Homo sapiens: one gene and its partners. The protein of the gene in region 2 purifies or fractionates together with the protein of the main gene of each other region. This does not show direct contact. Each region holds a gene or a part of one and is shown on either strand. Other genes may lie near its edges.

Evidence for each region.
Region 1: the proteins of SMAD6 (region 2) and BMPR1B purify together in Homo sapiens (affinity purification with western blotting; 2 studies listed by BioGRID). This does not show direct contact.
Region 3: the proteins of SMAD6 (region 2) and WWP1 purify together in Homo sapiens (affinity purification with western blotting; 3 studies listed by BioGRID, with this or other methods). This does not show direct contact.

What each region holds. Positions count from the first base shown.
Region 1 is NC_000004.12:94,760,831-94,764,651, reverse strand, and holds part of BMPR1B (bone morphogenetic protein receptor type-1B isoform b precursor), read right to left. Parts: intron 1-3,821. UniProt on the Homo sapiens protein: On ligand binding, forms a receptor complex consisting of two type II and two type I transmembrane serine/threonine kinases.
Region 2 is NC_000015.10:66,700,331-66,703,930, reverse strand, and holds the start of SMAD6 (mothers against decapentaplegic homolog 6), read right to left. Parts: upstream 1,696-3,600; 5' UTR 673-1,695; coding exon 1-672. UniProt on the Homo sapiens protein: Transforming growth factor-beta superfamily receptors signaling occurs through the Smad family of intracellular mediators. SMAD6 is an inhibitory Smad (i-Smad) that negatively regulates signaling downstream of type I transforming growth factor-beta.
Region 3 is NC_000008.11:86,340,260-86,344,080, reverse strand, and holds the start of WWP1 (NEDD4-like E3 ubiquitin-protein ligase WWP1), read right to left. Parts: upstream 1,535-3,821; 5' UTR 1,151-1,534; exon of another isoform or gene 805-1,150; intron 492-804; exon of another isoform or gene 421-491; intron 1-420. UniProt on the Homo sapiens protein: E3 ubiquitin-protein ligase which accepts ubiquitin from an E2 ubiquitin-conjugating enzyme in the form of a thioester and then directly transfers the ubiquitin to targeted substrates.

The DNA of each region.
Region 1 (3,821 bases), on a different chromosome or scaffold from region 2:
CAAAACAGGTAAGGGAGTACGACTGTTCTTATCAATCCAAGAAGACTCCAAAGAGCAGGCTTTCAGAAGCTGAATCAACAGAAAATAGGACTTTAATTGACACAGCTCCTGATAAGCTGAGGGAATTTATTTATAAACAGACAATGTAACAGGGTGTGGGCAGTAGTGGAAAAGAACCCCAAGGGTATTGCAGTAAATCCAGGTTAGCAAAAGCAGGGAAGTTATTCGAGATTACCAGAATCTGGAAAGAAAGAGTTATATAGAGAAGAATACCTTGGGAAGAGCAATGACTTTCAGTGCAGGAATACAGGCAGCCCAAACTGATCTCACAAAAAGGGAGCCAAGGAAATAAATACCCTCACTCCCCACCCTCCCTCTACTCTCTGCTGTGGCTCCCCAGTGACCTACGTTTTTTGGAAGTCAAAGTTGTTCATCCAGGTTATTTTCCCTGCAGACAGCATGAGGTAGAAGGGCTGAGAGTGGTTCTGGAGTGGCAACCAAAATATATCTGACATAGAAGCCAATGGTAATAAGAACAGTTTTGGCAAAATGGGGCAAAACAGAATATTCAGATACAGAAGAAACTCTTGACAAATTGAAGAAGATCAAAAGAAACAGTGGAAGAAAATTACTAGATACATAAAAATGAAATGATGCCACAACTGTCTGCAAGCCCATCTGAGCACTGCACCACGTTCCATAATAAAGGGAAGGATTTCAGGACAATCCTCCATTATGTGGACTATCATGGCTAAATGTGTATTGGAAAACAGAAAAGTAGCTAGTTTCAGAAAAAAGAATTGATGATAATTTAATACATTTTATAGATGGTCATAAAGTGTACTAGTTAGATAAAATTCACTGATTTCTATCAAGAGATTAATTTAGACAAAGGCAACATCATTACAGACTTCCTTGGAAACATTTTACATTCGTAAATCATCAAATTAACTAGTGACAGATGTGTCTGTACTTGTTTAAGTTCATATCTATCTAACTGCTATAAAAATGACTAAAATGTTTATCTCAAGACAGCCAGGCAAGAAACGTTATAAACAGATATACTGGATTGTATCTTTTTTTTCCTTTAGCCGATAAGTAAATACAATCTCCAGAAAATTCATTTCCAAACTTGCTACTTAATATCTTCCAAAGCTGACGCCACATGCAGCCATATCCTTGTTGAAAGACAGGAAAAAATAAAATTGGCTGAATCAAAACTACTGGCCTCTAAAGGAGTGCATCCAACAGCACTGCACAACTATTTACTGAATGCCTACTATGTCCTAGCACTTTGCAAGGGGCGGGAGTACAATGATGTGTAACATCCCGATCTAACAATGCAGACTTTATAATGAATTCTTTCAAGAAGCATCCAAAGTTTCCAAAGCTGAGGGTTAGAGGAAAATGACACTCAGACCTAATTAGAGGAATTCTGCCTCACTTCCCTTTTTTTATACTGACACACTTTACTGAAAATGAAGAGATGCTCATTCAAGGATGCTCACCACTCTGCTTTTCAGAAAGAACCAAGCGTCTCAGTGTAGTCCAGGAATCATCTCTAGCACTAAGAACCTTACTGCAACACTTCCTAGGACATACTATAGGCTCTCACGTGGAAGAAGCTTGCAGCCCATGAGATATTTGAGGTGAAGTAAAGAAGTGGTATCTGGGAACTCTAAGAAGGTGCTGAGGTCTGAAATTCAAAAGTAAAAGTAACTATTGAACCAGTGAATTGCTGCAATGTAGATCCTGGCACACCCCCAGCCCCCAGCCCCGCAAAAAAAAAAAAACAAAAACTGATGATTCAACTCCATGATTCTTCTATTCCACGATAAGAACAATGTCTGATCAATCTCTCAAGGTTCCACCCTTGGCCAAGCCAACAAACTCTCAGCTACATCATTTTCATAGCCACCCACATGGCCTTATTCAGGTACTCTTGCTCACACTATATACAGACATGCTAAATCATATTTGTTCACTTCTCTGTTTAAAATCCTCCAGGGTGTTCAACAGAATGTACTTTGAATAAAATACATATTTTATACTACGAACCTCGCCACCTCTCTGACCTCATTCCTATCACTTCCTCTAATTGCCTGAGTCCAGCCTCCCTGGCCAGTGAGTGCCTAGCTTGCTACTTTTAGAGACAACCCTAGTGCGTCCTCTGATAGGAAGTTCTTTCAGATCTTCACGGGGTTGGCTCTTTCTTGTTACTCAAGAATATCCTTACAGAGGCCTTCCTTGACCACCTCATATAAAATAGCCCAGTCACATGCTGTCTTATCACCCTGTCTTGTTTTCCTAATGGCAAATTTCACTATTGGAAATAATCTTATTCATGTGTTTGTGGATAGCTGATTGTGTTTTCACTCTCTACAAGTTCAATGACAGCAAGGATCTGTGTCTCTTATAGTCACAGTGTCCCCACAGTGTATAACAGTGCCACACACAGAGTAGGCATTCAAACATTTAAGTAAAAATGAATGTAATTAGAATATTGGCATGTAAGTGGATGTCCTGAACATCATGAAAACAAATTATTGCCTGATGTAAATTATACATTATCCCTTCTTACCACTGTGATGGGCTTTAAAAATACCCAGAAATAACATAACAAAATGTCCTTTTTGTCTACTCCTAAATCTTGGCTTCTCTCTGTACTCTATGCCTAAAAAGTTTTATTTTCACTCAATTTAAGTTATTAAGTCATATAAGCGACTTTTTAATCTACCTTTCTAGCCGCAACCCCTCCTTTCCCTGAATTCTGGCCTGCCTATACATATCTCAACAATTCTACTTCAGTTTCTGCCATCATATAAAATTCAGCATATGGAAACCTGAAATTATTAATAGTATCTCTAAGGCAAAATCAGTTTTTCCTTCTGTCTTTAATACTTTCACCAACCATCCTCTGAATACCCATATTTAAAAGCTAAAAATGATCTTGATTATGAAATTCAAGAACTGGAAGAGGGACTGGAGGACAACAAGTAAAGTGGTCTTCAAGTTTTTTTAAAGCTGTGTTAGCCTTTTTTAAAACAAAAGCTTACCAGGAAGTCTGATATGTAAAACAGATGAATTTGCAGTTGTTCTGGGAGTTAAACTGGTAGTCTCTGAAGAAAACTTCAAAAAGAACCACTAATCTGGTCCAAACTTCCTTTTTCTTCTCCCTAACCCCCTTCAACACACACACACACACACACACACACACACACACACACACACACACAGAATTATACAGCGGAAAATGTAAGTCCAGAGAGCTTAAATCTTCTTTGCAGGTAAGAAATAGTAATTCTGCCCAACACAGTTATCACCCAGAACAATGCCTACCACATAGAAATAATTTAGGAGTCAAGGTTCTTAAAGATCGGTGTTACCTCCATGCTTACATGCATCAGAAATGATTATCAGTTATTGCAAAGTGATACATTTCATGCACGGCTTTTATTGGATGACATGAAAAGAAATCTTCAGAGTTTAGAGTAAAACTTACAGCTTCTAATTATAGACATATTTACCCACTTCTAGTGAAAGAAGTCAAACATGAGTCCAGTGAAAAGAATTGTGGCACCGTGAAAAAAGTAAAGTCTCAATTCCATAGCCATCCTAGCCTCACTTTCTATTTCTGAGCATGGTTTTTCAAACTCTCTGGGCCTCATCCTCTTCATCTTTAATATTATTAATGTGTGTGATGACATGCTAAGACTCTTTCAATCCTAAGTCTATGATCTGCTATTACACTATTCTTAAGTATTTTCCTTGAGCTACTGCATCCACAAAGAATCAGTATCACAAGTTAGAGGTAATTTGGA
Region 2 (3,600 bases):
CAGCTGCGGCGGCGCGGGCTGGCCGCCCAGGCGGAGGTCGGCGCGCGGCACCAGCACGCAGCCGCCCGGCACGCCGCCGCGGGACTCCACCGCCTCCAGCAGCGTGTCCAGCGAGCGCTCCTTGAGCCGCTTCAGCAGCGAGTACGTGACGGTTTTGAGTTCCTGCTCCAGCAGCAGCAGCCGCGAGCGCGCTTCGCGACTCCGCCCGCCGCCCGCCGGCTCCAGGGCCGCCCCGGCCAGGGGGTCGCTGGCGTCCCGGGGCGCGCCGGCGGCGTCCCGCTCCGAAAAGAGACAGCAGGTCACCGTCTCGCAGTCACTCTCGGGCAGCCAGCCCGGGCCTCCCGGCTCCGCCACGTCCAGCAGGGAGCTCCCAGCGCCGGCCCCTGGCTCCGACATGGGCCTCGGGGGGCCCCCTGCGCGCCGGCGCCTCCCCGCGCCCTGGGCGCCTCGCTGTCCCACTGCGTCCCGGGGCCGCCGCGGGGCTACCGGGCGGACTTCGGAGCGGCCGCAGCCTCCGCCCTCTCTTGCCCGCGGGGCCGGCTCAGCTCGGCTGCCCAAGCTCCCATCCTCGTCGCCGCCACCGCCGCCGCCGCTGCCGCCTTCCTCCCGGTCGGGGACCACACGACTTCGCCAAAGTCGCCGCACCAGCCCCGAGCGTTTGGACCTGAACATACGATATCCTTTGGCGCCAGGGGTGGGGGGGAGGCGGTCTCCGGTTACCGGGGGTCCGTTCCCTCAGCGAGGCGCCGGCTGCGCGGGTCGCAGCCCCACATGAAGCTCCGCCGCGGAGCGCCGTGCAGACCGCGCACAGCCTGTCGTCGAAGGGGCGCCGCAGGGCGACAACATGAGGGAGCTCGCCGAGGCGGGACGGCCGGGAACACGCGCACGCCGAGCCGCAGTCCGCGCGCGGCCAGCGGCTACATGGACCACAGCGGCGGGGCTGCTCAACAACTCCAGCCCCCGCGCTTTAGGGGGGCTGCAGGCGGCGCGCCGCCAGAAAGACCCCACATGGGCCGGCGAGCCTTCAAAAGTTGTGCGGCTGGTCCATGAGCACAAAGCGCTCGCGCGAACCCCTAAATGTGTCTGGAAAGCCCTGCCTTTACCTTGCCTTTTTTTTAAACCAAAGCGCTTAACTACATGGGCTTTTCCCGCAGGATCCGAAAGGCAGGCTTGTTGATACCCCCAGCTCCCTTCTTACTCCCTGCAAAAAGAAAAAAAAAAGGAAAGAAAGAAAAGGAAATCCCAAACAAAACCTAAATCCCTGGATTTGCATGCACGAAAGGCCAACGCCGTCTCAGGTCCCAGGCGCTAGATGCACTTGGAGCGAGTTTCTCCTGGACGCGGGTGTCAACACATGAGTGGAAGCTGTAAAAATCCCAAAGAGCTGCTGGGAATCCTTAATTAAAAATGCAGTCCACCGATGCAGAGGTCGCAGCCCGCCCCACGCTGCCCTCGGACGCTTCGTGCGCCGAGGCTGCCGAGGTCGCCCCCCCTCCCCCCTCCACAAAAGTGCCTCCCGGTGGCCCCGGGGTCCCAGCGAGGTCTGGCGAGGCAGCGCCCGGCGGCTCTTTCTCTCGGCTCAGCTCCCTCGATCGCTCCCCCGCTCGGCTCTCTCTCTCTTTTTTGTTCTCCTCAAACGCACACTGAGGGCCCCCGGAGGAGCGCCGCGGAGTCATTGGCTGCCTCCCATCATATGCCAGTCTAGACACTTTGGCGGCTCCGCGGCGCTGATTGTTGCGCAAACAAGGTTTCAAGTTTCTTAACTCTTAAAGGAGAACACGTCCCATTGCAGGGCCGGAGGCTCCAAGGGGCCGGCTCCCGGGGCGGGCCGAGCTCGGGCCCCCGCCCCACACCACCCCGGCACCCCCGCCCAGGGCCTGACAGCGCCCGCGGCCCGCTTTCTGCCTCGCGTTGCGCCCAGAGCACGGATGCGAGCGAGCACACACGCGCGCGCGGACACACACACACACACACACAGGGTTACACGAGCCACGAGCAGGCGCGCAAGGCTCGGCGGACCCACTGAGACTCGGACGCAAACGGGGCGCTTTGCCTCTCCCTGGCTTGTGCACAAACTTACAAACACACTTTGCACTTTAAAGTTGTTCCAAACCCCCATCCTAGGGTAGGCTAATAAAAATGGGTGTGCATGTGTGCCTTCCAGGGTTGAGCCTCTGAGGAGCAGGGGGCGGCGGATATGTTGGGGTAGCGGATCTTCCGTGACTGCACTAGGGGCTCTACGCTCCTTGCACAAAGTCGGGGGTCGCTCTGCCGGGCCAAACAGGGAGCTCAGGACGCTTTGCGTACGGTGGCTCCAGGCTCGCCCGGAGTGGGGAGATGGAGAGGGTGGGGTAGAGGCGGGGAGTGTCTACTCGCTGGCTCCTCTCGGTCGCCACGGCCCTCCCTTGGAGCGAGGCGGGCCGCCGGCCGGCCGGGCCCCCTCCAGGCCGGGTGCTTCCTCTCCCTTCTCAAGTTTACTCTCCGCACCTCGGAGAGGGCTGTAGGTGAGGGATCACGCTTTCCCTAGAGAGGTTTCCACGCGAAAATGGGGGTGGGTTGGGGGCGGGATCGGGGGCGCGGCGGCAGCAGCCTGACGCCCGGCGCGGGAAGGGTTAAGGCCGCTCCTGCCCCTGGAGCCGGCGCGGCGGGGTACCTCCTCGGGCGCGCTCGCTAGTCCGAGGGTGGCAAAAGTTCAAGCTTGTAAAGTCGGGATTGGTCCCGCGCGGAGGGGAAAAAAGGCCTGGGCCCCCCTCCCCCCCCGGGCGCGGCGCCGATTGGCCAGGCAGAGGGGCCGGCCCCGCCCTCTCCCCCCGCGCGCGGCGGCCCCACCCCCGGCGCGGCGCCCCGCCCCTTTCCGGGCAGGAGCCTGGCCCCGCGCTGAATGAAAGAAATTCCGCTACTCTCATTGGCCCGGGGCTGGGCGCCATTCCCCCGCGGTGACCGCGGGGCGCCGGCGGGCGGGTCTCCCTGGAGAGTGACCACGCGTGGAGCTAGCCTGGGGAGTGCGCGGCGGTGCGAACCCCCGGCCGTGCCCAGAGTCTGTGTGCGCTGGGGGAAGGGTGGCATTTGCAAGGAGGATTCAGAACCCTTTGCTGAGCTTTACCTGGAACCAGGTACTGTTCGCGCTGCGCTCTCTGAGAGTGGCCGTTGCTCCCCGAAAGAAAGATCGGACTGAGACACTTCCTCACACCCATCCCCTACTACTTTGGCCAAATTAAAGTAGCGGTCCTAGCCTCAGTTTCTTGTTTGAAACCGCGGATGAGGATGCTTGCCCTTCGTGCTTCACAGAACCACGAAGGTCCCTGGAGATAGTGCACGTTAAATGCACAAATCGCAAGCGAACAGCAGGATGAATTTTCACACGTGAACAAACACACATGATGTCACCAGCACCCAAAAAGCAACCTGACCTGCACCCCAGAAGCCTGTCTTGTGGCCCCTTTCAGTCACTTTTCGCCCATGGGGAAATTAATACATCTTAAAATACAAACAGAAACTCAGTGTATTTTCTTTTATCCCCGTGTATGCTCTTTGTGGATTATCTTTGACTGTGTATTACAATAATAATAGTTCGTGCGTATTGAGTCGTTACTATGGGCA
Region 3 (3,821 bases), on a different chromosome or scaffold from region 2:
CAATAAAAGAACGACTTTCTTCTTTAAAAGGTGCATTTTGCTTGTATAATACACACAGATTTGGTGAGGCAGGTAAAGTGGATTTACACATAAACATGAACTCTTGTTAAAAAAAAAAAATGCAGGTAACTGTAAACCAACTATTTCAGGTAAAAACACCAAACGGGGAAAACAAAGATAATTTTGGACATGATTTTTTTTCCCACTACTATTACCAGTAACATTTTAAAGCAGAAACACAAAATCTTGTTCCACATTAACCTACACACACACAGAAAAAAATTTGTTAAACTTATCAAATAGAAAAAGAAGGCAAAATCAAGCCCCTGGAAAATATTTTATTCTGAAAGAGTAAAAATGTCAAAATTATAACAGACACTACTCTTCTTTGGTAATGAAGGTTTCATATATTTACCACAGCAGAGAAAACTCCAAATCGGCAGAGCAAAGAAAGGACTGTGAACAAGACTGATCATTTAAAGGTCGTAAAGGTAAGGAGCAAACTACAAAATTAAATTTTTTTAAAAAAAGAACACGAAGATGAAAGGAGAGTCTGTAAGTCACAGACAAGATAAGGACTGGTAAAATCTGCAAGGTCACTGGAACCTACCAGGTCACAAAAGGTGGAGGTGGGGGTTGCGCTGGGGGGGCGGGGGATGGGGAGCTGCAGAGTCGGTGAAGAACGGAGAGTGATAAAAACATGTCAGAAAAAGACGTTCCAAAGCTGGAGTCCTTGGTTTGCAACGCTGAAATTGGGGTGAAAGTCAGGGAACGGGCAATGAGTCCATGTATTTGTGTTTTCAGGGAGGTGTTAGGGAAAGGTGGAGGAAGGCGAAGAGAAGGCTAAGGAAGCCTAAGAACTGCGGCTGCAGAGTCACGGAAACACTTCGCTCCGCTCCAGGATCACTGGCACAGGCCTTTGCCAGGGCGAACTCCGGGCAAGACCCGTGACCCCACCCCAGAAAACTCCCGACTCCCGGGCTGGAGAAGGTAGCCAAGGTAGGGCGGACCGTCCCCCGACGGGTCCTAGGAGGGTCCAGCCCGGGGGCGGACGGCGCCGGGCGCCCAGCACCGCGGCCAAGGCTCAGGGCCCGTGCCCCCTCCCGCCCTGCCCATTCGCACCCCCAGCCCCGCGCCGCGCCGTCCTTACCCGGCGCGAAGCTGTCGGCTCCCGGCAGCCGGGCGGCCACGGCAGCGGCACCTCCTCCTGCGGCGGGCGCCCTCACCCTTCCGCGCCCAAGATCGCCATCTCGCAGCAGGCGCGGCGGCAGCAGCCACCCAGGCGTCGGCCCCGGCAGCCCAGGCCGCCAGCAGCCACTCGGAACCCGCACGCGGAGCTCGCCGACACCCGACCCTCCCCCCACCCCCACCCCGTCCACGCGCCACCCCCAGCCGACCCCACACCTCCCTTCCTCGGGAGCGCGCCGCGTGGCCGCGTCGCCGGCGCCGCGCCCTAAGCGCGCGCCTCCCCGCCGGCCCCGGCACCGCGCGCTACGCCGCGGCCGCCCAAAGCCTCCAACTCCGGACCCGGAATCCGCCTCCCCCGAGCATGCGCAGCGAGGGCGCTCGGATGCTGCCTTAGGAAAACTCCGCTCCTCCGGGTCTTCCGAGCAGTCTAGCGGAGGGGGACGGACAGCCAATAGTAGGGAGGGGCGGGGCCTGAACGTGTGGAAGGGGCGGGGCCGCCGCTGAGATTTGGGAAGAGGCTGCTCTAAGCTCGCGCTGGGCACTGCTAATTTGACTTTCCGGTCGGCGGCTGATCCCGGAGCAGGACTTCTTAAGGTCCGGGGGCAAAAGTAGGCTGTCCATAAATACTCCTTGACCTAGCTGGGTGACCTCGAACACATTGCAAGAGTAAATAATTGCATTTAGCCATTGGTCATACCCGAAGACTTTCAGTCCATTTTTTATTAATCAAAACGTTCATCTGTGGAAGCCCCACCACCTAGTCCTCACTCACATCAGCCCGGTGATAAAGCAGATACTTATTGACCGAGTATACGTGTCCGCACAATTAACGCACACAACAATCTGACAAAGTAGTGTCTACTGTCTGCATTTTACAGAAAAGTCAACTAGTTTAGAAAAGTACTGTTGGTTATGTGTATTGCTTTTAGAAGAAAGGCCAATGTGCAAATAGAAGTCAGTGGGACCACATTGCTTACCAGGTGACCCGGTTTCTACTTCAGAGAAGCAGAAGCCTTCAGGCATGGATTTCTACAGCTTTTGCCCAACCACCTGACCAACCCCCATAGATTATATCTACGTCCACACCCAGACTTACTAGTTTTCCTTCTATCTCGGAGGCTAGATGTCCCTGCTCCTCTCCACTGCCTGCTCCCCACTGTGGGCGGTCCTTGGCACATCTTTAACTTCACCCTCTCCACTGCCTACAACTCCTCAGCATAATCACGTTTTAAGATTAGGTCCTAAATTTTCCCTTGATTTTAAAACCTCTGGTTCTCTCTCCCCTTCCATTTTAACTGAGCTTTTTGAAAGAACTGTGTACCAAAAACAACCCCAACACTTCATGAGTGTGTACAGAATTCAACAAGTATCTCTTGACTGAACAATGCACATTCCCGCCTACCTCCATGCATTAGTTCTTGTCCTCTGGCTTCATAGTTGAAATTGGTGCACATTATATCCACAAAGATCATTCGAAAATATACATCTGTGTCATTCCACTGCTTAAAATCATTCTTTGGCTTTTCGGAGCTCTCCTGACAAAGATTAACGTGATATTCAAGGTTCCTTTGATGCTCACATGCTCTATCTCTCCTGTTATGAAAAACTCTTCACAGTGCCCCATATGTGCCCACTCATCTCTGCTTTAAACATGTACTAAGATTTTCTTCATCTTTTTGCTTTTGCTGTCTGGTCCCTTTAAATAGATGCAATAATGTGCTTACAAACACGTCCTCAGAAATTCCGTAGGTATTCCCCAGCAGGGATCTGGACTCCTTCTCCAGAATGCATGCAGGCCTCCTCTTCCTGCTCTGTGTCTCACTTTCAGCTCCCCTCATTGCTCAATTTCCTCCCCGTTCAGAAGCTCTTAGTACTCACCTAGTCCTCAAGCTGACACCCAATATTGAACCAGCCTTTTGTTATTGACTGTTTGGTTTCAAATGAACAATATTATAAATAGTATTCCATAACCATTGTTCATGTCCTTATTAACTGTCTTAGATAAATTATTAAAAGTAATAAAAAAGTATGAACAAGTTTAGCCCTTTTGAAACATATTGGCAACTACCTTCCAGAAAGAGCATAGGCTCAGGTATCACATCGCCCAGCATCAAAACACAGCTCTGCCACCCAGTGCCACATTCTGACTTTCACAGGCCCTAGGTGCTTATACCTGTGTGGGCCTCATCTTCCATAAAATAATACTACAAAATATATTTTATTACTGCATTGGTATGAAGAAAAAGATATTAACATTATACATTAAAATATTTTCTTTGACCTAAATATTCAATTTTTTGCCTTCTGATTTTAAAAGAAATTAAAACATTTTTATGGGCCCCCGAAAGTGTTATAAGCCTGAGGCACTGTGTCTACTGTGCCTAATGGATAACCTGACCCTCCTGCTGCCTATGAGCTGAGAGATTTGGCCAATTGCTTAATCTAATTGTGTCTCAACTAGAAAATTAATATAGTGCTTCCACATGTTGTATTAAAAAATATATATAAATTGCTATAAATAACACGCATAGAGCTACTTAACACATGAGCATGGCACATAATCAAGAAATGATTGTCATAATGGTTATCAATTTTCCCACAACACTACATGACAGTATGTGATTGTCCTTCTT